Homo sapiens: one gene and its partners. The protein of the gene in region 1 purifies or fractionates together with the protein of each later gene. This does not show direct contact. Each region holds a gene or a part of one and is shown on either strand. Other genes may lie near its edges. The genes, in order: SRSF4, YTHDC1 and HP1BP3.

Evidence for each region.
Region 2: the proteins of SRSF4 (region 1) and YTHDC1 purify together in Homo sapiens (co-immunoprecipitation; 2 studies listed by BioGRID and IntAct, with this or other methods). This does not show direct contact.
Region 3: the proteins of SRSF4 (region 1) and HP1BP3 purify together in Homo sapiens (affinity purification with mass spectrometry; 2 studies listed by BioGRID and IntAct, with this or other methods). This does not show direct contact.

Annotation. Positions count from the first base shown.
Region 1 is NC_000001.11:29,171,310-29,179,807, reverse strand, and holds part of SRSF4 (serine/arginine-rich splicing factor 4), read left to right. Parts: intron 1-4,089; exon of another isoform or gene 4,090-8,498. UniProt on the Homo sapiens protein: Plays a role in alternative splice site selection during pre-mRNA splicing. Represses the splicing of MAPT/Tau exon 10.
Region 2 is NC_000004.12:68,325,196-68,333,693, reverse strand, and holds part of YTHDC1 (YTH domain-containing protein 1), read left to right. Parts: intron 1-296; coding exon 297-386; intron 387-846; coding exon 847-900; intron 901-1,496; coding exon 1,497-1,591; intron 1,592-3,383; coding exon 3,384-3,492; intron 3,493-3,574; coding exon 3,575-3,692; intron 3,693-8,498. UniProt on the Homo sapiens protein: Regulator of alternative splicing that specifically recognizes and binds N6-methyladenosine (m6A)-containing RNAs.
Region 3 is NC_000001.11:20,770,308-20,777,307, forward strand, and holds part of HP1BP3 (heterochromatin protein 1-binding protein 3), read right to left. Parts: intron 6,444-7,000; coding exon 6,290-6,443; intron 3,304-6,289; coding exon 3,144-3,303; intron 767-3,143; coding exon 623-766; intron 1-622. UniProt on the Homo sapiens protein: Component of heterochromatin that maintains heterochromatin integrity during G1/S progression and regulates the duration of G1 phase to critically influence cell proliferative capacity.

The DNA of each region.
Region 1 (8,498 bases):
AGCATTATGACATGTGCACTTTGAATTAAGAAATGTTTGCTTTCGCTTTAAACTCTAGTAAAACTTGGAATGATTTGCTTGAAAAGATGTGTTGAAATGGCTTTGAAGAATAGATTAGAGCTTGAAGTGAAGAAATTTAGGTTTCTGGGAATAGTATATGTCGTAGTTGGGGCTCAGGCATGGTGACTTGTGCCTGCAATCCCAGCTGAAGTGTGAAGATTACTTCAGGCCAGGAGTTTGAGACCAGCCTGACCCCATCTCTAAGAAAAAAATTTTTTTAATTAGCCACGCGTGGTGACACTCGCCTATAGTCCTAGCTACTTCAGAGGATGAGGCAGGAGGATCACTTCAGCCTAGGATTTCAAGGCTACAGTGAGCTATGATTGTGACACTGCACTCCAGTCTGGGTAACAGCAAGACCCCCATCTCTAATAAAATAAGTACAATGCTGACTTTTTTTGCTTTTTGATGAATAGGGAAAAAATATTTTTTTAATGTCATAATTGGTGTTGAAGACATGGTCCAGTAAGAAGCAATTATGAAAAATAATAAACAATCTAGCATGGATCAAGCCTTATGAAGAATCTAGAAATTTAACAACATAAACCAGAAACAACGACTATTAGATTTTACACTAAAAATTCGAAATCAATGAGTAGGAATTCAAAGGCTCTGGAAGGAAGAAGTGAGCAACCCAAAAGGAAGATGGAGCGATAAGAGGAAAGAGCCTTTCAGGACCCTAAATACCTGGGTGGTTTTTTTAAGGAACTGTTCATTCTTACAGTTATGCTGCCAAACCATGATATGCATGAAATGTCATTGAAAGTCAAGGTTGAAATGAAGTCATTTTAGAGTTTCAAAGACAGGTATGACAGTCACCAAACAGCACACAATATGACCTCCTGGCATCATTGAGGAATCATTACAGAGGAAAACGACTTCTGGGAAGAAGACCAATGGTAAAGATGTATTTCAAGCAAAAATTGCCTGTATGGCAAAAACGCTGGAGAGTCTGAAAGGAAGGAGTGAGTACAAAAGAAAAAGCATAACTTAGCTACGTATGTAAGCTTATAGTCCCCTAGCAGAAGGGCAGTGGATCTCCCTACTGGGAAGCATGTTTGAACATATCTAGATTGTGATTAGTAATTGAAACTCAGAGGCCGGGCGCGGTGGCCTGTAATCCCAGCACTTTGGGAGGCCGAGGCGGGCAGATGACGAGGTCAGGAGATCGAGACCATCCTGGTTAAGATGGTGAAACCCCGTCTCTACTAAAAATGAAAATAAAAATTAAAAAAAAGTAGCCGGGCATGGTGGCAGGCACCTGTAGTCCCAGCTACTCGAGAGGCTGAGGCAGGAGAATGGCGTGAACCTGGGAGGTGGAGCTTGCAGTGAGCCGAGATCGTGCCACTGCACTCCAGCCTGGGCGACAGCGAGACTCTGTCTCAAAAAAAAAAGTAATTGAAACTCAGAAACAGATTTTGGATGCTTTAGATAGGTCTTTGAAGAATTGCTGGAGTTCAGATTTGTAGAAGTGAGATGTATCAGTAGATATGTTAGGCTGAAGGGTTGTAAGTTAAGTTTAGAATTAAGGCATAAAATGCTTGTCTAGACCGGTCACGGTGGCTCACACCTGTAATCCCATCACCTTGGGAGGCCGAGGTAGGTGGATCACTTGAAGTCAGGGGTTTGAGACCAGCCTGGCCAACATGGTGAAACCCCATCTCTACTAAAAATACAAAGATTAGCTGGGTGTGGTGGTGGGCACCTGTAATCCCAGCTCCTCTAGAGGCTAAGGCAGGAGAATTGCTTGAACCTGGGAGGTGGAGGTTGCAGTGAGCAGAGATTGCATCACTGCACTCCAACCTAGGCAACAGAGCAAGACTCTGTCTCAAAAAAAAAAAAAAAAAAAAAAAATCTTGTGTAATAGGAAGATGACCAAATAAGGAAACAAATGAGTTCTTCAAAGGAGATTTAGTGTTCAGGAAAGGATTCTATGGACCCTGAGAGGGTTTGGAGAAGAGGTGTGTAAGCAAGAGTTCATTGCCTACCGTTTTATTACACCAGGCATCGCTAATGTAGATTGCCACTGTTCTAGAGAACTTTTTGAAAGATGGTTTGGGACCACAAATACAACGAAGATCTCCCAGGATCATATAGACCATTCCATTTCCCATTAAGGTCTCCTACTTTTCTACCCGCCCCATAAACTTCAAGAGTCACTGCAAGGGCCTGGCACGGTGGCTCACACCTGTAACCCCGGCACTTTGAGAGGCCAAGGCAGGCAGATCACCCAAGGTCATAAGTTCAAGACCAGCCTGACCAACATGGAGAAACCCCTGTCTCTACTAAAAATACAAAGTTAGCCGGGCGTCGTGGCACATGCCTGTAATCCTGGCTACTCGGGAGGCTGAGGCAAGAGAATCACTTGAACCTCAGAGGCATAGGTTGCGGTGAGCCGAGATCCTGCCATTGCACTCCAGCCTGGGCAACAAGAGCAAAACTTCGTCTCAAAAAAAAAAAAAAACAAAAAGAGTTACTGTAGGGAAGGGAGGGGCAGGAATCCTAGATGCACGTCAAGGAAGCAACAATATTAGCAGCACTTGTTTATACCCTTTCAGCTCTGTGGTAACTTTTGTTGGCTTTGATTGTATATAGATTTTATTTTTTATAATAAGCCATTTCATGTAAAGTGTGAAAGAATTTTGAGTACACTAGTTGCCCTTTTGTCATAAAATCTTGTGGTTTTAGTCAGATCTTTATATCTTAGCTTTTCCATATTTTAGTTAATGAGTAAAACTTACCACATATTAAGATTATTTTGCCTGTCTAGTAGCTAGAAGGATAAACCCCCAGATCATTGAAATTTATAGTTTTATTTTTTAGTTCAAGTCATGAATTAAAACTCTCAAGGGAAACTTGGATTTAAACTTCAGAACCTGCGTTTCATGGAACAGTGAAATCATGAATAGCCTGAATTTTCAGGGGATGTTGTGGTCTGTTTAGTCATGCTATCTAATTATTACCAGAAAATTTTTGTTTTCGCCCTTGTTTAATGCACCATAATTTTTTTAATGTGGAGTTCAAGACTCTTCGAGTGAGGCAGGTCGTTGTTGTGTATGTCACTGCTCACTGGAGGGCATTATTAAGCCTTAGATACTGAGAAGAATTACTGCCAACCCCAGCACCTACACAGGGATTTTTCTCTTTTGACTCCTGAATTCTTGACAGATTAGGAAGTATATAGTTAGTTTAATGTTCCAGGTTGCTGGTTTCTGGTTAGATGAGCTGTTACAGTATTTTTTTCTTTTTTTTTTTTTTAAAGTTTTTAGTTTTTAATTCTCCCAAGGCTTCTCCCAAGGCTCTGTCATTCATCGTTACCGTATTCTTAATCATGAGAGGGATTATCTTCACCCACCACCAAGTGGCAGAGAAGTGCTTTATCATTTTTATGATAATGCTATAACTAATGAGTGACAAAAGAAAAAGCAAACACTTTGCCTTTAGGAACCCTACCACCTATTTGTTGTTTTTTTGTTTTTTGTTTTTTGTTTTTTTTGAGATGGAGTCTTGCTCTGTCGCCCAGGCTGGAGTGCAGTGGTACAATCTCAGCTCACTGCAACTTCCGCCTTTTGGGTTCAAGCAATTCTCCTGCCTCAGCCTCCCAAGTAGCTGGGACTACAGGCGCGTGCCACCACGCCCGGCTAATTTTTTGTATTTTTAGTAGAGACAGGGTTTCACCGTGTTAGGCAGGATGGTCTTGATCTCCTGACCTCATGATCCACCTGCCTCGGCCTCCCAAAGTGCTGGGATTACAGGTGTGAGCCACCATGCCCGGCCACCTTTTTGTTTTTAAGCCCTTCTGCCAGCCTCAGAAATAGCATCCCATTTGCACTGGCATGTACAAAGCATTAGAGTCTATGTTAAGAAAAGGAAGACATTTGGTTCTGGATTAATTTTAGGATTATCTAAGAAGAGGTTAAAACAAGTTTTGTTTAAAAGCGTGTTTGAATAACTCTCTTTATGTATAGTTAAAATTAAAGACCCACTCTTAATTTTCAAAGTAGCACATATTTATAATTGGAAATTTTTTTTTTTTTTTTTTTTTTTTTTTTTGAGACAGCGTCTGGCTCTGTCGCCCAGGCTGGAGTGCAGTGGCGCAATCTCGGCTCACTGCAAGCTCCGCCTCCTGGGTTCACGCCATTCTCCTGCCTCAGCCTCTCAAGTAGCTGGGACTACAGGAGCCCGCCACCGCTCCCGGCTAATTTTTTGTATTTTTAGTAGAGACGGGGTTTCACTGTGTTACCCAGGATGGTCTCGATCTCCTGACCTCATGATCCACCCGCCTCGGCCTCCCAAAGTGCTGGGATTACAGGCGTGAGCCACCACGCCCGGCCGGAAATTTTTTTTGAGATGGAGTCTCTGTCTGTTGCCCAGGCTGGAATGCAGTGGCACAATCGTGGCTCACCTCCCAGGTACAAGCGATTCTGCTGCCTCAGCCTCCCAAGTAGCTGGGATTACAGGTGTGCACCACCACCCCCGGCTAATTTTTGTATTTTTTGTAGAAACGGGGTTTCACCACGTTGGCCAGCCTGGTTTTGAACTCCTGACCTCAAAGTGATCTACCTCACAAAGTGCTGGGATTACAGGCGTGAGCCACCACACCTGGCCTATTATAATTTTTTTATATGGAGAAGGACCAAAATAATCCAAAGATGTAACTCTTTGCATTTTGGGTTTTTTAGTTTTACTTTTTTTCACATACAGGTATGGGCATGTGCACGCACGCACTCTGTCTCTCTTCTTTTCTTTTTTTTTTTTTTAATTAAAAAACCCACCGGCCAGTTGTGGTGGCTCACGCCTATAATCCCAACACTTTGGGAGGCCAAGGCTGGCAGATCACAAGGTCAAGAGATTGAGACCATCCTGGCCAACATGGTGAAACCCTGTCTCTACTAAAAATACAAAAATTAGCTGGGCATGATGGCGCACGCCTGTAGTCCCAGCTACTCAGGAGGCTGAGGCAGGAGAATTGCTTGAACCCAGGAAGTGGAGGTTGCAATGAGCCTAGATCGGGCCACTGCACTCCAGCCTGGTGATGGAGCAAGACTCCATCAAAAAAAAAAAAAAAAAAACCTATCTCCTGCACAGTCTCTCCCTTTTCTTATGCCTCTCCTGACTCCTTTTTTTTTTCCAAACTTGGAATCATACTATAAGTTATTTTATAATTTGCTTGTTTCACCCTAACAGCCTGATCCTTTTCCTTTGTCATTAAGTATTCTCCTACAACCTGGTTTCTAATGGCTACATAGTACTCCAACATACATATGTTATTTAATGGACATAATCAGAACCATGTTGCAAGGCATTTAGGTTATCTTTATTTTTGTACTATTTTATGCATGTATAATACTGTTGAATATCCTTTATATGAATTTTTGTATACATTTCTTTTTGCCTTAGGGCAGATTCCTGCAAGTAGACTTTGGGAGTCAAAGCATATACACATTTTAATGCTTTTGCTAGCTATTCCATTACTCGGTAAATTAATATTTACGTTTCCACCTGCGGTGTTTAAGAGCTCCTATTTTTTTTTTTCTTTTTTCTTTTTTTTTTTGAGATGGGGTCTCAATCTGTCTCCCAGGCTGCAGTGCAGTGCAGTGGCATGATCTCAGCTCACTGCAACCTCTGCCTCCCGGGTTCAAGCAGTTCTCCTGCCTCAGCCTCCCAAGTAGCTGGGATTACAGGCGCCTGCCACCACACCCCGCTAATTTTTGTATTTTTAGTAGAGACACAGTTTCACCTTGTTGGCCAGGCTGTTCTCAAACTCCTGACCTCAGGTGATCCGCCCACCTCATCCTCCCAAAGTGCTGGGATTACAGGCGTGAGCCACCGCACCCACCAAGAGTTCCTACTTTTCTGAACAGTGCCCTTTATTATAATTTTTTAAACTAATTTTTTCTAATTAAAATGTTTAGAATTATATATGAGGAAATCATTTGGCAGCCTTTAAGGCTTGTCTATTTAGCCTATCAAGCATAACAAATTCAAGAACTTTTTGGACCAGGTGCGGTGGCTCACACCTGTAATCCCAGCACTTTTGGGAAGCTGAGGTGGGCGGATCACTTGAGGTCAGGAGTTTGAGACCAGCCTGGCCAGCATGGTGAAACCCCGTCTGTACTAAAAAGACAAAAATTAGCTGGGTATGGTGGCACTTGCTGTAATCCCAGCTACTTAGGAGGCTGAGGCAGGAGAATCGCTAGAACCCGGGAGCCGAGATTGCACCATTGCACTCCAGCCTGGGCAACAGAGTGAGACTCCATCTCAAAAAAAAAAAAAAAAAAGAAAAAAAAAAAACAACTTTTTAGGCCAGGCGTGGTGGCTCACACCTGTAATCCCAGCACTTTGGGAGGCCGAGGCGGGCGGATCACGAGGTCAGGAGATCGAGACCATCCTGGCTAACATGGTGAAACCCTATCTCTACTAAAAAAAAAATACAAAAAAAATTAGCCGGGCCTGTTGGCCTGCGCCTGTAGTCCCAGCTACTTGGGAGGTTGAAGTAGGAGAATGGCGTGAACCCGGGAGGCTGAGCTTGCAGTGAGCCGAGATCGCACCACTGCACTCCAGCCTGGATGACAGAGCAAGACTCTGTCTCAAAAAAAAAAAAAAAAAAAAAAAAAGCCTTTTTGACTCATTAGAGAATAAATGTAGGTTAATTGTAGATCATTTAGATATTATGAAAGCATAAAGTGAAAAGTATCATTAAGCATCCTTTTAAGATGGGTGAGGTTTTACGTGCAATTTTGTGTCACGCTTTTTTTACTTAATTTATCTCATGTATTTTCTATTACATTAAAATCTTCCTTATTAATGGCTTCATAAAATCCATTGTATGGCAATATTATGACTTACCCAACCATTCCTCTTATATTGTCTACCTTTTTTTTGGTCTCCTAATTCTTGCTGTTATAAGTAACCCTGTGATGGGTATTATGTGCATAAAACTTTGTTTGCATTTTTATTATCCCTGAGTACATATGGATTCCATGAAATAAAATTCATGTGTCACAGCAGGAGTGAACATATTCAAGTATCTCAGTGCATATAACCAAATAACTTTCCAGAAAAGCTACACCAGTTACACTTAACACCCGCAGTGTATGAGCATGCCCGTGTGATGGGCACTTCAACAGCATGGAGTACCCCTGTTGTGTTTGCTGGCCAGGCGTGGTGGCTCACGTCTGTAATTCCAGCACTTTAGGAGGCCAAGGCGGGCGGATCACCTGAGGTCAGAAGTTCGAGACCAGCCTGACCAACATGATGAGACCCTGTCTCTACTGAAATTACAAAAATTAGCTGGGCATGGTGGTAGGCTCCTGCAATCCTAGCTACTCGGGAGGCTGAGGCAGGAGAACCGCTTGAACCCGGGAGGCGGAAGTTGCAGTGTGAGATCACACCATTCCACTCCAGCTTGGGTGACAGAGTGAGACTCTGTCTCAAAAATAAAAAATAAAAATAAAAGATGCTAATTTACCAAGTGAAAAATAATCAGGAAGTTTTTCTTGAATGAATAATAAATAGAGATAGGACTATGAATTAAGTAGCATTCTGTCATTGTTTTATTAGTAATATAACTATTACAAATGTGATCAAATTTTTTTTTATTAAAAGTCACTTTTTAAAGTCAACTTACCCCCCAAAAAAGTGTATTATTTTTTTCCCCCAATATATGGGGAATTTAATTTTTTTCTGTCATTTTGAAAAATCAATGCCAAGAGATAATACCATATTGAGATTTTTGACCAAATGTTAACAGCGTAAATTGCCCTGGTTCAAGACCTCCACTCCTTGGTTCTTGGTCCCTTCAGTTTGTGGTATGAATAAACATCATTTGTAATTATTTGACTAAGTCATTTAAAATCCCTGTTCTTCAGTTTAATATACTGTTTTGCTCCTCCTTTCTCATTGAGGTACTGTATGAATTTAAGGGCCATACGAAGTATTTGTCCCTTCTTAAAAGATAGGCACAGGATATAGACTCGGTAATAAAATGTGGTTTGGGTTTCTAGTATTTTTTTATGCTTCCAGGTACCCAGAACCGCAAATTTTACTTTGAGCTCCTCAGAAGAAAGGTGCTCCAGGCATCTGAGAGAATACCGTTGGGGTGATACTTACAAATTTGTAAGCTAACACTGAAATCTTAAAACTTCCGAAAATATTAATGCATTTGTATGACTTATTTTTCAACTGAGTATGTCAAAGTACTTTATGAACAAGTGTTGTCCCTAGTTTGTACTGATGGGGAAACTGAGGCATGGGGTGATAAGGTGACTGGCCCAAGGTTACAAAATGAGTTATTGACAACTCCGGAAATAGAAGATTTTTTAAATTCCCATACTAGATACATGTGGGCATTGACATTCAAAGCTTCCCTCATGCTATTTCCTTTAGTCCTGTCCTTTGGGGATTGCCTCTGAGGGTGAGAGGGTAGTTCAGGTTTC
Region 2 (8,498 bases), on another chromosome or scaffold:
CCCCGCTTGGAAAACTGTATTCAAGGCCACCTATATATGGCAATTAAGGCCCTGACTTTGTAGTTATTTCGTGTGTTTTTATTTGATTGAAACTGATGAAAGAAACAAGATGCCCGTACTTTTTAAACAGTATTTTTAAAATAAAACATTCTGAGGAAATTGAGGGATCAGGAGAGAGGAGCACAGACTAATAGAAGGGCTATGCAAAAACTAGACATGTAATGATACATTCTTGTTTGATTACTTCTCTTCGTTTCTGTATTGTGATTTAAAAAAAAAACTCTTGTTCTTTTTAGATGAGAAAAAGAAGGAAAGGAAGAGAGCTAGAGGCATATCTCCAATTGTTTTTGATAGAAGTGGAAGCTCTGCATCAGAGTCATATGCAGGTATTCTCATTTTGTGATCATATCTGACTTGATTCTAATGTAATCTGCTTTAGAAAGCGTGTGGAGGCTGTAGTTTAGTGTGAACTTGTTGATGTCCATTAGCACTGATTTTTGGCATGTTCAGTGTAATAATTCTAGAGAAAACTAAGCTTTTTCTTATTATTTTAATCCTGTTCTGTTACTGCTTAAGTGGAATTTTCACTTTTTTTTTCTTGGAAGATGATGATTCAGTGACTAGTTTTCTGAGTGGGAAACTGTTCAAATATACATACTTTTAAAAAAATCCAAACAACCCAAAAAGCAAAACACTCGTACACATTGAGAAGTTTTTTTTGTGTGTGTGGGTGCGCCAGGAAGAATAATTTGTCTTGAATGAGAATTTTATGTGACAAGACTGTAGAAATTTTGTCTTATCTCTATTAAAGCTCAATCTGAACAAATGTACTTTGGCTAAATACAGGTTCAGAAAAGAAGCATGAGAAATTATCATCTTCCGTTCGTGCTGTCCGAAAAGGTATCATTTAAATTTGAAATTGTTTTCATTGCATGCTGCATAGTCATTATTTTTCCTTATTGGTTCTCCATTAATAGCTGCTTTTAATGTAGTAATGTTCCGATATATTACATGAAGCAAAAAATAATATCTTAACATAGAAAGCTCTGTGTCTGCTTCTTACTGCATATTTTTTAGAATAATACCAAACATTTCAGGATATTTTAGTTTTTGGACAAAATGGGATGGGTGTGTGTGTGTATGTGTGTATGTGTTATATATAGATGTGTGTGTATATATATGTATGTATATAATGGTCTGTTATTCTTGAATCTGAGTAAGAAAATCTATAAAACTTGGTAACCATTTTCATACTTAAATATGGATTTGATATATCGGAACATCACTAGGTTAGGTTTACTTTCTTGCAATATGCTGATTGTCTTTTCTTAGCTTTGCTTTATTACATGTGGCTTAGCCTTCCAGGTTGAATGGGTGATTGTTGCGTTTTAAAAGTTTAGCTGGGTTGTGGAGGGCTAATTTCAGTTAGTACAGTTTTGACCCCTTTGTGTGATAATGGCTTGTGGTTAATCGATTTGGGTTTCTTTTTTTTTCAGATCAAACCAGTAAACTCAAATATGTGCTTCAAGATGCAAGATTTTTCCTCATAAAGAGTAACAACCATGAGAATGTGTCTCTTGCCAAAGCGAAGGTATTAGCATCAGTTCTGTTGAAACTATCCTAATATCAAAATTTTTAAATGGGAAAATAGACTTGTATTATATCAAGTAGCATAGGTATTATGATTTTCATTACGGCTTTAAAGATCTACATTCCAATGGCCACTTAGGATCTGGTTGTAGTCAGTCAGCCTACTTGTAATTTGAGTTTTCTTTTTTTTTTTTTAAGATGATTTTAGGGGTCAGAATATTAAATGTTGAAGGCTATACAGTTTAACTTTTTGCTGTAAAAGATCCTGTTTCTGTTGATTTTTGTTTCTGTACTTCCTCAGTGGCTCATTTATTGTGCTAACACTTCTAAAAGTACCTGTAGTTAACCAATTTTTGTTTTATGTTGATGCTTGATTTACACTTTGAGGTTCTTTTGAAATCATTCTTTTATGGAGAGTTTTATTTTTTAGAATTAAGATCATTGGGATTTAGAAGAAAAAGAATTAGCTTAAAGATCCACTCCAGACTTTGCAAAAAAGATATGCATAGTTGCTGTAGGATGTTGTAAGATAATAATTTTCTTTTTATGTTTGGCTACAAAAATACATTTTTGTGTTACACTAGCTGTTACAGTGTTTTGCTATTCTTGGTTTAAACTGAGTAACTACAGTTTCAACTGATTTTCAGAAACTTAAAACTAAAGTTAGACATTTCTCTAATGATATTTCTGTCAGTATTCTATATTTCTACCTTAAGGACTACCCCTAAAACTTTACAAACAGAAGGAAACAGTACACCAAATAGCCTTATTCTGTTCTCTAGCTTAAGTGGATTTAGGCAGAAGTACACTTGGCCCTCGGTATCCACAGGGTTCCTCATCTTTCGATTTAACTAACTGGATTGAAATATTAGGGGAAAAAGGAATGAGAAATAATAAAACAGAAAATACAAACTTAAACACAGTATAACAACTATTCACATAGCATTTACATTGTATTAGGTATAAGTATTCTAGAGGTGATTTAAAGTATATGGGAGTATATGCATGGGTTATACGCAAATACTGTGCCATTTTATATAAGGGACTTGAGCATCCTCAGATTTTGGTATCTGCATGGGTCCTGGAACCAGTCCCCAGTGGAGACTGAGGAACAACTGTAAGCACTTAGTTTGAATGAGATGTCATTTGTATGAGCAGATGGTGTGAGCTGAATGATAGCATCTGCCTTATTATTCCATTTCTTTTTATCTGTTATGAATGAAGAATTGGTTAAAATGCTTTAGAAATTAACAAATATCTTCCAGCTGTAGGTAAAACGTAGGCCTCTTCAGTCAAACTATTGATACATAAAAATTTGAACTTAAAAACTGCTTTAAAAAACGAACTTAAATAGAAAAATGCTAGATTCTTGACTAATAGAGTAATTTTAAATTATTTGATCAGGTACGGTTTTGCAAGAAGACTAACTTCTAAGTGGCGATTCACCTTCAAACAGGATGTATTTACCACAGTAAATGGTTGTAATATTAAAATAATTGTAGTGATTGGTTTTACTATATAGAATTCTAGTCCCTTAGATTTGAACCTCATCTCCATCTATTTACTACTTGCTTTAATGGTTTTGTAAAATTGGTAATTGTCTCCATTTTTTCCCTTAGGTTTTTATAAATTATTACTACGTTATTCTGACAGCTGATAAATAAAACCTTTCTTCATTATAGCTTACTTAAATTGAAAGCACACCAAAATATGTAGTTTTTTTTCAAACATAACTGGAAACACAAAAGAGTTGTAGTTAATTTCACTTTGTGGTCTTTATGTTATTTATGTAGGGTGTATGGTCCACGCTCCCTGTAAATGAGAAGAAATTAAATCTTGCATTTAGATCTGCAAGGAGTGTTATCTTAATATTTTCTGTCAGAGAGAGTGGAAAATTTCAAGGTAAGAATAAAAATAATTTGGACATATAAAAACATTAATTATATTAGCATCTACATATTATATTATGATATGATTCTCTTAGGGTTTGCAAGACTTTCTTCAGAATCACATCACGGAGGATCTCCTATACACTGGGTGCTTCCAGCAGGAATGAGTGCTAAAATGCTGGGAGGTGTCTTTAAAATTGACTGGATTTGCAGGTAAATTATACACTTCAGTATAGATAACTGAAATTTTGAATACACTACCAGTTTAGAATAATGTGTTAAAGTGAAAAAGTCACTGTATACTTATCTTACCTTGTTCAGTAACTACCTTTATCTAATGTGGGACACAACAAAGGCGTATTTAGTCTAAAGTTACATGTATTTGATTTGTTTTGTATATTAGTAATAAAGCAGTAAATGAATTGGACAGTTGCTTGAAATGTTGTCTGGCGTATCTGTATAATTTTAGTGATTTAACATGTCACTTAAGTTATTGAGGAATGGGAAATAAGTACTATGACTTGGCTAACAATTTCGGAGGTAACTAGTTTAGTCGTGGACAGTATTTTTTAAGGAGGTTAGCAAATGATGTTTAGTTGCCATTGTGATCTTCTGAAACTGAGTTAAGATTTAACTGTATTTATTAGAAAAATAATCAGGCTTATTTTGAACACTGAGTTGTCACTATTTTTAGGTCCTTACTGCACACTGAAGTATTGTACACAAGAAGCTCATTATTTAAGTGATCTTTACGTGGCATACACAAATGTATTACCTGTAAAATTAATTTTAGTTAAAAAGTGTCTGAAAGGAGATGGTTACTTTGTGAGTTTTAAGTTGTTTTTGGGTATTAGATCTTGATGAGCCTGAAGGGGTCGGATGAAAAAGAAGAAAAATGCTATGCATATGATGGAAATCAGCCTAAGCCAAGAAGAGCATGGAAACAAACTATGGGGTTGCAGGGTTGTGGGGAGCAGTGGGAGGGCATATGGATGTGTGAGTGGGATAGGGAGCTACCTTTTTTTATGAAGGAGATGGTTAGGAAAAGAGAAGAACAGAGGGCAAAGATGGATAAGAATGAATGAATGTGAGTCAGCCTAAATGTTTATTGTAGGATAGTGAGGAGCTGTGAAGATAGAGGGAGTGATATATTACAAATAGCATACAGTCACTTACTGTGTAGTGACATACCCATCAACAAAGAATCTTGTCCCATAAGACTGTAGGACTCGTAAGAGGTACCTATAATACCATATTTTACTATACCTTTTCTATGTTTAGATACACAAGTATTTTCCATTGTGTTACATTTACCTACACTATTCAATACAGTAACATGCTGTGCAGATTTGTAGGCTAGGAGAAACAGGTCATACCATATATCCTAGGTATGTAGTAGGCTATACCATTTAGGTTTGTGTAAGTGCATTCTGTGATGTTCACACAATGAAATCACCTAATGAGTGTATCCCTGTCATTAAGTGACACATAACTGTATTAGGTTGATAATAGCGTAGCAAAAAGCTATGTGCAGAAAAAATACTCATCCCATTATTACTTTCTGTGGGAAAGAGTTGGAAATCATCTAAATTCTTTGAAATAGAAAATTAGTTAAATTATAGTTTGTCTCTTAAATATATGTGGAAGTAATTGTGCACATATCAACATGGAAAGGTATAACAAATGAAAAAATACATAATTATGGTATTGGAATGCAGTGTTAGGTGGTGAGACTGTTAGTGCTTTCTCCCACTTCCTCTCTGTTGCCCCCAGGGGTTTTAAAATATAAACTTGGTTTTTTTGAAATCAAAATTATAATTAAGTTATAATTAAAGTTGAAAATCTGGTGACAATTTGTAGGAAAGGGAGTGATTATTTTTATTTTGTGTGTGTATGTGACTGCTCTGTAAAGGCCAGAGGAAACGTTGTAATGTAACATATTTGCAGGTGTTGCTTTCTTGGGAACAGGAGAGAAAATAATTGCCCATTTTTATGTGGGTTGCAGCAGATTTTGTTTCAAATGTTATTTGTTCTGTTAACCTTCATTTTTACATTACTGATAAGGAAATTCTTAATTTTAAGATGAATTTAATTTTTCATGGATTATTCATTCTTCATATTCCTCTTCATTGACTTATTGACTATTCTACTAATTTGTTTGAAATGTATCAAGCAACCGAAGAGGTAGACAGACTCAATTTGTCTATCCTACTAACGTGAGGTGTAAAATTGTGGGCAGTAAAGTGCTTTTATTATTTTAAAGTAAGTTTATGGGTTTACCTAGAAATAGTATTTTTACATAATAAAACTATAGTTTTAATGTTTTAATACTCAAGTTCTATTCAAGTGTAATTTTACAATACTTTACAGTTCTGGAGGGCTTGTGATATTTCTAACATTGATATTTCCTTAGATAAGTCACTTGAACTCTCTTGAGTTTAAATTCTCTCTATATAGTGAGAATTACATTTGAGTCTCAGAACATTTAAATTTAATAAATAGAAATGGTCAGGACTTTGCTATCAACAGTAACTGCTGTTAATATTTTTTTCTTTTGCAGATATAATAATTATTAGATTTATATTTAAGGACCCTTTGGATATAATAATAACTAGACTTAAGCTTTTTTAGGTGTGATCCCTGGATCACTTACATCAGTAGCATCTGACTGTTAAAATGCAGAATCTTGAAACCCACCTCAAACCTGTTAAATTCTTGATGGTTCAGGTAGTTGGTAGGCACATGGAAGATTGGGACCAGATAAGTGTCATGTTTTAGCTGATAAAGAGAGGGAGGCATAAAAAGCGACTTATTAAGGTTGCCACCTGTAATTAGCTCAAAATAAGGCATGATCTATGAAATACTATTCATCCAGAGTTACATTTACTGACTAGGTGTTATATTCCTTTCATGTCCATTCCAAACAACCCATTTCTGTTTTCATTTAGAGTCTCTCCATTTTTCTTTTCTTTTCTTTTGAGACGGAGTTTCGCTCTTGTTGCCCAGGCTAGAGTGCAATGGCGCAATCTCGGCTCACCACAACTTCCGCCTCCCGGGTTCAAGCGATTCTTCTGCCTCAGCCTCCCTAGTAGCTGGGATTACAGGCATGTGCCACCACGCCCGGCTAATTTTTTATTTTTAGTAGAGACGGGGTTTCTCCATGTTGGTTAGGCTGGTCTCGAACTCCCGACCTCAGGTGATCCGCCCGCCTCAGCCTCCCAAAGTGCTGGGATTACTACAGGCATGAGCCACTGCGCCCGGCCTCCATTTTTCTTTTTAACTTTAATCAACAAACCACTGTCCAGCATATAAGAGCCTCTGCATGGCTGGGCGCAGTGGTTCATGCCTGTAATCCCAGCACTTTGGGAGGCTGAGGTGGGTGCATCACTTGAGGCCAGGAGTTCGAGACTAGCATGGCCAACATGGTGAAACCCCGTCTCTACTAAAAATGCAAAAATTAGCCAGATGTGGTGGCGCATGCCTGTAGTCCCAGCTACATGGGAGGCTGAGGCATGAGAATCCCTTGAACTCAGGAGGCGGAGGTTGCAGCAAGCCGAGATCATGCAGCTGCACTCCAGTCTGGGTAACAGAGTGAGACTGTGTCTCAAAACAAAAAACTGTGCACAGTTTTACATTCTTTGTTAAATTTGCCCTATTTGCAGAACCACTTAGGTCAGAGAGTCCCTTACATGTTCTCAAAGAACTCACAGTAAAGATAAGTTGTATCTGTATGCTTCATAACATAGCTGCTCAGAAGGTAACTGTTAGGTTGCTTGTTCTATGATTGTGATCTGAGAAGAAAGGATAAAATAAGGATGCTACATGGATCACAGACCCTGCAATTTTTCTTAATTTATTCTGAGCCCTGTTTTGCCTCAGGCTTCACAGTTTTCTGTGATGTTCTGGCTGAGATTAACTGTGTTGAAACAGTGAACAGATGTCTCTTGAATCTAGTTGGAACCAGTGCCACCAAAGAATCTCAACCCCAAATGATACATTTAGCTTGGCCTATGCTTTTACTTCTACTTGGATCGTGGGTATTTAATTGCTGATATTTAAATAACAGTGATAATCCCATTAATTTATAACCTTCTTATATTTTGGTGGCTGTAGGTTTTCATTTATGCCTTTCCTATAACTGTTTTAAACTGGCAATTAGAAGAAAAATTTAAATTATTCAACAGAATACAAAGAAAACTAGATCTCTGCCTCTGGATATTCAAGCTTTGATGTGGACTTGTTCTAGTCTTTCTACTTCTGAGAGCCTGAAAAGGGGGAAAAAAAATTCAGTATTTTTGACTCACTCTTGATGGGTGAAGTAAGGTGTATATTAGAAAAAGAAACCAAGCTTTTAAGTGATACTTAGTGGATATTTTCATTACTCACTGACCACTCTTCCATGTATATATATATCACCTCCATCACAGAATATACCACCTTGTTAATTTAACTCTAAAATACTTCTATTTCCCTGGAAAATGTCAAAGTTTTTCCTGAGGTTTAAAACAAGTTATATAAGATCTGAGCATTCAGGCCAGGTGTGGTGGCTCACAGCTGTAATCCTAGCATTTTCGGAGGCTGAGGTGAGAGGATTGCTTGAGCCCATTTATTCACAATCAGCCAAGGCAAAATAGATCCAATCTCTAAAAAATTAAATTTAAAAAAAGGTCTGAGCAGGCAATATTCACTTTCAAGAAAATTCATGTAAGGTTATGTGGCATGTTCACTGGGCAAAGTTACTTATGTTTTCCCTTTTCCATTATGCCTGTGTTCTAGCCCTTCTCTTTGTTTCAAATGTATCCCTGCCTTAGTTCTCTACATAAGGCTTTACCTGGGTTTTCTTTCAAGCTTAACTCTTGTACCACTTCTTTCATGAAGCATTTTGTGATTATTTTTCTTTCTTTCAAAATAGATACAACCACTCCTATTAAAAACAAAAAAAAAATCTTCTGTATTGTGCATATAGTACCCATTGTCTTTGAAAATTGTGTGTGCTTATTTTTCTTCGATGGCTATGGA
Region 3 (7,000 bases), 8.4 Mb from region 1:
GCAATTATTATTTCTGTTATTCCTTTTTGTTTTCAGACAGGGTCTCACTCTCACCGAGGCTGGAGTGGTGAGATCGTAACTCACAATAGCCTCAACCTCCCAGGCTCAAGCGGTCCTCCTGCCTCTGCCTTCCAAGTACCTGGGACTAGAGGCATGTGTCACCAAACCCTGCTGATTTTGTATTTTTTGTAGAGAAGGGGTCTTGCTATGTTGCCCAGGCTGGTCTCGAACTCCTGGGCTCAAGTGATCCTCCCAACTAAGCCTCCCAAGGTGCTGGGACTACAGGTGTAGGCCACCATCCCTAGCCTCATTTTTGCTGTTTCAGTAGTAGGATTCCTTACCTCTTTTTCATGTTCAGTGCTACATGATTTCAAGCACAAGCAGCCCCCCAAAAAATATCCAATTAAGAGCAAAGTAAGCTAGAAAAAAGTTACACTATCTTAATGGCACCAGCATTTTCGAAACCTAGCCTCAGATAATTCAACTAGGTTAAACTTAAGGAATTTCATCATCATGAAACTTATTTTTAACAAAAAAGGCACAAAAAGCCTAAATGTTACTAACTGTAGACTTAAAGCTAATACACAATGAAATGATCTTACTACTAACAATTGTGTAATACCTGTTTGATGACTCCTCTATTTAATTCTCTTTTCAGTGCTTGTTTAAGGAGATAACCCCTTCTCTCCAGCTCCAGAGAAGGATACTTATGGATGATGTATTTTCGAATAGCAACCACTGATGCACCACTCTTCTGGAAGCATGCCTAGAAAAGATTTATTAAACTAGTTGTTTTTTTTTATTAGATAGAGCCTGACATATATTTTCAAAATAAATTATTTTGGAAGTGAATTTGATGATAGATGACAAAAACGGTAGGGAAGAATGAACTTCAGAAGACTTCAGTTCATAATGACTACAGAGAAGTAACAGAATTACTAAATATTTCTACTACAATTTTAAATTGTTCAAAACAGCCTAAGAGACCATACTGAACACGAACAACATTCTATGTATAATGAAGAACCTCTTTCCATTTTAATTCCATTCTGTATTTAGAAGATGAATCTTTGGCATCAAAATGAGAAAAGCAGAACAAACCTATCACTTACAGGATCACAGATCTGTCCCATTTTAAGGCACGAGCTTAAGGAATGAGCATGCCAGGACATTTCCCTGAAGGCTCTGTATGAATGTCAGCAGAAAGAAGAATCAAAGATAATCTGAATAAGTGGCATAAAAATGGGTTTACAGATGGCAAAGTGCTGAAGGAGAGTTTTGGGTAATAGTGAAGGTGTTCTATTTGAATTTAATGTGCCCTCTTCCATTTCCATCCTATTTTACTTATACTCCATTTGACTAATGCACCTGGAAGAATTAAGTAGCTCATTATGTCACAAAGGCAGCAAATACTTAATTTTTTTCAAATGCTTAAAATTTTGTTTTCCAACTGGTCACTGACTTGAAATCAAATACTTTAAATTTTGAAACACACAAAAGTAGCATCTGTCATTTATCTAATGAGCTAGTCCATCAATTTTGTACTGCCACAGTGTCTATTAAATCAATGTAGCACTTATTCATTCTCATTGGATAAGAACTTCGTTGAATGTTTTTATACATTTTGACAACAAAGAAAAATAACTCACAGGTAGATGGTCCAGAAAAGATTGCACAACACGAAACAAGTTGTATTAATATGGGTCATGTAATTCAAGTCTATGTCTCTGAACTATTAATGACCTACTGAGGTTTACTCCTGATCTTAAAAGAAAACACAGAGCAAAGAAAATCAAGCAGAAAAGAACACTAATGCTGAAACAAATAATCTTTTGCTCCACCAATCCGACAGTGAGATGGTAGTAGACATCATGATTCCTGTTCAATACAGAAAATGGTATCCATGGTCTGAAACAATAATTTGTCATATTGCATGGAATACACATTATCTATATAAAATCAATCATCTCCATAAATATGCACAATTATATTCAAACCATTCTTTAAGCCAAATTGATATTGTTTTAATTTTTTATTTCACTATTTTAAAGTTTCAGCCCTTTTTCCATCCTCACTATGATGCTGCTCCTTCAAACCCAGGCTGAGTGGTCATCAAGTGAAATCCTTGAAGAAAGGCTATACAAAGAACAGAGATTTCACTACAGTGAGGTAATCTAGACCAATAAAGTTTTCTTAATGAGGTGAGAGCATAAGAAGTCTTGAAGGAGTAAAGGGAGAAGTCTGAAGGCAAACCCTTTTTCCAGTTTATGTGTTAGTGCTATCTTCTCATATTCTGAGAATGACAACCAGGCTGCTCCTTTTCGTACACATCCCCCCTTTTCTGGTTAAAATCATCTGTATCCCTGTCTCCCCAGTCCTGCCTCAGATCCTAACAACAGGGTCCCTGAAAGATGGGTCTGTTCTAACTCCTCTTATCATCTGATCATATGAACTAAACAAGGCAAAATTAAATGAAAAGACTTATACAATAAAGGCAATGTCAAATTAGAAGATAACCTTTAAAAATTAAAATAGGAAAACTACATCTAATGAAAGTCAATGAAATCATAAATCTATGTAAGGAGGATAATTTTTGTAAGCATTTTGGAATGTCTAGGTAATAAAGCAGTGTTTATTAACAGGGTTCAGGTGTGAAAGATAACCACTACCAAGATCACTTAGCTTTAGAAATGAACCTAGAGATATTTTTTAAACAAAAATTCTCAATATTTTTCAGTTACTGAGTCACAATTAGATTTATAAGGGCAAGGACTTTGCTAGCCTTAGTTAATTCACCACTAGCAGGGGCGCCCAACAGAGGAAGGTAGTCCTTAAATGTTTGTTCAATGAATTAACATTTTCAGCCTTCAAATAAAAACTGTACTTAATCGATAAACTGCATTTAAAAATTCTAAAGTTAAAATATTTGCTATATTAAATATAATTTTTTTAAAAAAATTAACAGTGTTCACCAAATGTGATTATATTAGAAAAACATGAACTTATAATGACTTTCCTCTCTTTAAAACTCCTTTAGGAAGCAGAACAAGATTTATGATGTCTAGACAGATATATGCCATTTTCAAATAAGAAAAAAATGAACATAATAAATCTAAGATGAATTGCTTGAAATAAAAACTTGCCTTAATGGCCTCAGTTAAGATTGCATCCATCTTGGGACGTGGGGAAGAAGCCATCGGTGTTTGTTTCTGGGCCCTGGCTAGCTGGCTGGCAGAAAGGGTAGCCCAGGAAGGAATTGTTTTTTTCACTTTCTTCTCCTTTTCTTTAGACTGATCTTTCTCACTTTAAAACAAAGAATTGTTATTATAGAAGATAAGCTCTCTAGAAAGACGTATAAAGTCAGAAGGAGGAAAAGACCAGGGAGGGATAAAAATTAATGCTTTAATTTATTTACAGGCTAAGATGACATGTACCATAAGCAAAATTTTACAAAATAAATCTTCTTTAAAAACTGGGTACTATAAATGAATTAAAAAGGTATTTTTCTCTTAGCTGCAGGAGAAAGGAGTCACATAAATTAGCACTGGTATAAGGGCTCAGTACATAAGACAAATGAGAATTTTAAAATGCACATTAGTTAACAATTACAACAGATGCAATATGGTATAGTGGAAAAAACTCAAGCTCTTAAAGTCAGAAAACCTTTGTTTGTATTTTCACTCAAACATTTACTAGCTAGCTATATGATCTTAGTAAATGATGTGAGTCTTTCTCCTCAGCTATAAAACAGTAATATAGAACCAACTATTTCCCAAGGTGTTGCAAGAATTATAAGAGTATGTTTATCAAAACAATTTTGTGAGATTTAAAGCATTATGTAAATTTTATTCTGAGTATATAACAGTACTCTGTGCACCTAATAGGTGCATTAGAACATTTAACAACAGACGATAGGCTGGGTGCAGTGGCTCATGCCTGTAATCCCAGCAATTTAGGAGGCTGAGGAGGGAGGACAGCTTGAGGCCAGGAGTTCAAGCCCAACCTAGCCAACATAGTGAGACGCCATCTCCATTAAACACACACACACACACACAAACACACCCACACCCACACACGATAGTTGCTATAAATTCCACAGACCTTAGCTATACTTATGAAACTCAGATAAAGAATACCCTGAAGATTATAGCTAGAAGGTATAGTTATTACTAAGTTATTCTTTTATGGTCATGTGCTGTGTAACAATATTTGGTCAACAGACCACATATACAATGGTGGTCCCTTAAGATTATAATGGAACTGAAAACCTCCTATTACCTGGTTAACATGATAGCTGTGGTAATATCACAGCGCAGCACGTTACTCACTTGTTTGTGGTGACATTGGTGTAAACAAACCTACAGTGCTGCCAGTCATACAAAAATATAGCATATTGGCTGGGCGCGGTGACTCATGCCTGTAATCCCAGCACTTTGGGAGGCCAAGGTGGGCGGATCACAAGGTCAAAAGATTGAGACCATCCTGGCCAACATGGTGAAACCCCCGTCTCTCCTGAAAATACAAAAATTAGCTAGGTGTGGAGGTGCACGCCTGTAGTCCCAGCTACTTGGCAGGTTGAGGCAGGAGAATCGCTTGAACCTGGGAGGTGGAGGTTGCAGTGAGCCCAGATCGCGCCACTGCACTCCACACTCCAACCTGGGTGACAGAGTAAGACTCCATCTCAAAAAAAAAAAAAAAGCACATTACAATTATACATAATACCTGATAATAAACAGCTATGCTACTAGTTTATGTGTTTACTATACTATACTTTTTATCATTAGAGTATATGTTTTCTACCTACAAAAAAAAAGTTAACTGTAAAACAGCCTCAAGCAGGTCCTTCAGAAGGTATTCCAAAAGACAGCACTGTTATCATAGGAAATGACAGGTCCATGTGTGTTGCTGCCCCTGAAGGCCTTGAGTGGGACAAGATCTGGAGGTGGAAGACAGTGATATTGATGACCCTGACCTTGTGCAGGCCTAGGTTAAGGTGTGTGTATGTGTCTTAGTTTTGTTTTTTTATAAATATGAGGTCTCACAACGTTGCCCAATCTAGATTCAAATTTCAGGACTCAAGCAATCCCCCCACCTCAGCTTCCTAAGTAGCTAGGGCTACAGCTGTGCACCATTGCGTCCGGCTTGTGTCTTTGTTTTTGGTAAAGTTTTAAAAGTTTTTAAAAATAAAAACTTTTTAGTTTTAAAAGTTGCTAAAAATAAAAACTTTTTAGTTTTAAAAGTTGCACACAGTAGTCCTAGGCCTTTGCATTCACTTACCACTCACTCACTCACCCAAACAACTTCCAATCCTTTAAGGTCCATTCATGGTAGGTGTCCTACACAGGTATACCATTTTTTATCTTTTATATTATATTTTTACTGTACCTTTTCTATGTTTAAATACACAAATACTTACCGTTGTGTTATAACTGCCTACAGTATTTAGTACAGTAACATGCTGTACAGGTTTGTAGCCTAGAAGCAACAGACTATCCCATAAAGCCTAGGTATGTAGTAGGCTGTACCACGTAGGTTTGTGTAAGTACACTTTATGATGTTGGCACGATGATGAAATCGCCTAAAGATGTATCTCTCAGAATGTATACCCATTGTTAAGCAATGCATGACTATAGTTAAAAGCAATTTCTAACTGTTCTGACCAATTATGAAAAGAGTGGAATGAATACTATCAGCTCTCCTGCAAAAAAAAAAAAAAAAAAATTAAAAATTAAAAAGTAACTGCCATCACTTTATATAGATACACATCAATAGCAAATTTTACTTTCAGATTCTCAAAGCCAATTCTTCAACTGAATATTTCATCAAACATATATAGACTTTTAGGTCACACTACCAATGGCTTGATACAAATCAATGCCTTCTAACATAAGCACACAAAAACAACCCACTCCTGGCACAGAAGTAGGAATAAAATAGTGAAATGTCTTCTAGGTCAGATTTTTATAGTTATGTTTCATTTCTTATTGAAGTCTTGCCAATGCTTAAAATATCAGATACTCCCACAATAAATTACAAGCTCAAAAACACATTCCAAAGCCAATGACAAAGACTTTTGGATTATTCAAACCATTGTGTTCTGCTAACTACAGCATATTCTAACAGGTCAAACAACTATATAATAAACCTATTTCAAATGGTAATTCTAAAAATTAAATCCAAATAGCAAATACCTAGCATAAACCAATGTTATAACACTTTAAAACAATCTAATCTAAAGTCCTTTTACACATTCTTCAAATATAAATAGCAAGAAGACATAACTCCTTACTCCTTTTTGGTTTCCTCAGAAGACTTATTTTCTTCCTTCTCTTCATTCTCAGGTTCCCCCTTTGGCTGCTCTGCCTCACTCGAAGTAGCAGGTGGAGTTTCATTCTCTTGTTCTTCTACAGTGGAGACAGATTCCTCTGAACTTATGTCTGGTTCTAAAAAATCAGGTGAGCAGAATTGCATAAGCAGATGTATTCCAATCTGAGTCAATAAAAGGTAAAAGCTTATCTTATTAAACGGACCAGCCAAAGTCTCCAATTAACAAATGAATTCTAAAATGAAAATGAATGACCACTAATGCAGTTTTCTTACATTCTTTATGTCACTCAAGTTTCCTGGTCAGGTGGTTATTTATCTATTATTAGAAAAATAGACCAGGAAATTACATAGAAAGGAAAACTCATTTCATCCCCAATTGTTTAATTATTCTACTTTGCAATATTCATGAGACTCATAATTAAGAAACTAGCCATTTTATAATTCAACAGGCAAATCTCAGAGAATAAGTAATTTAAAAACTCATGTATTCTCCAAGAGGAATGACTGAAGCAAGAGTAGAAATATGAGGGGAACATGGAGGTCTGCTGCTATTTGTGCCTTTCCTTCACAGCATGTCTCTGAGTAGCTACTATAAAACACAGAACCCCAGGCACTGGTTATGCAGGGACTTCAGAGAACTCCAAAAAAAAATAAAAATAAAAAAAATAAAAAA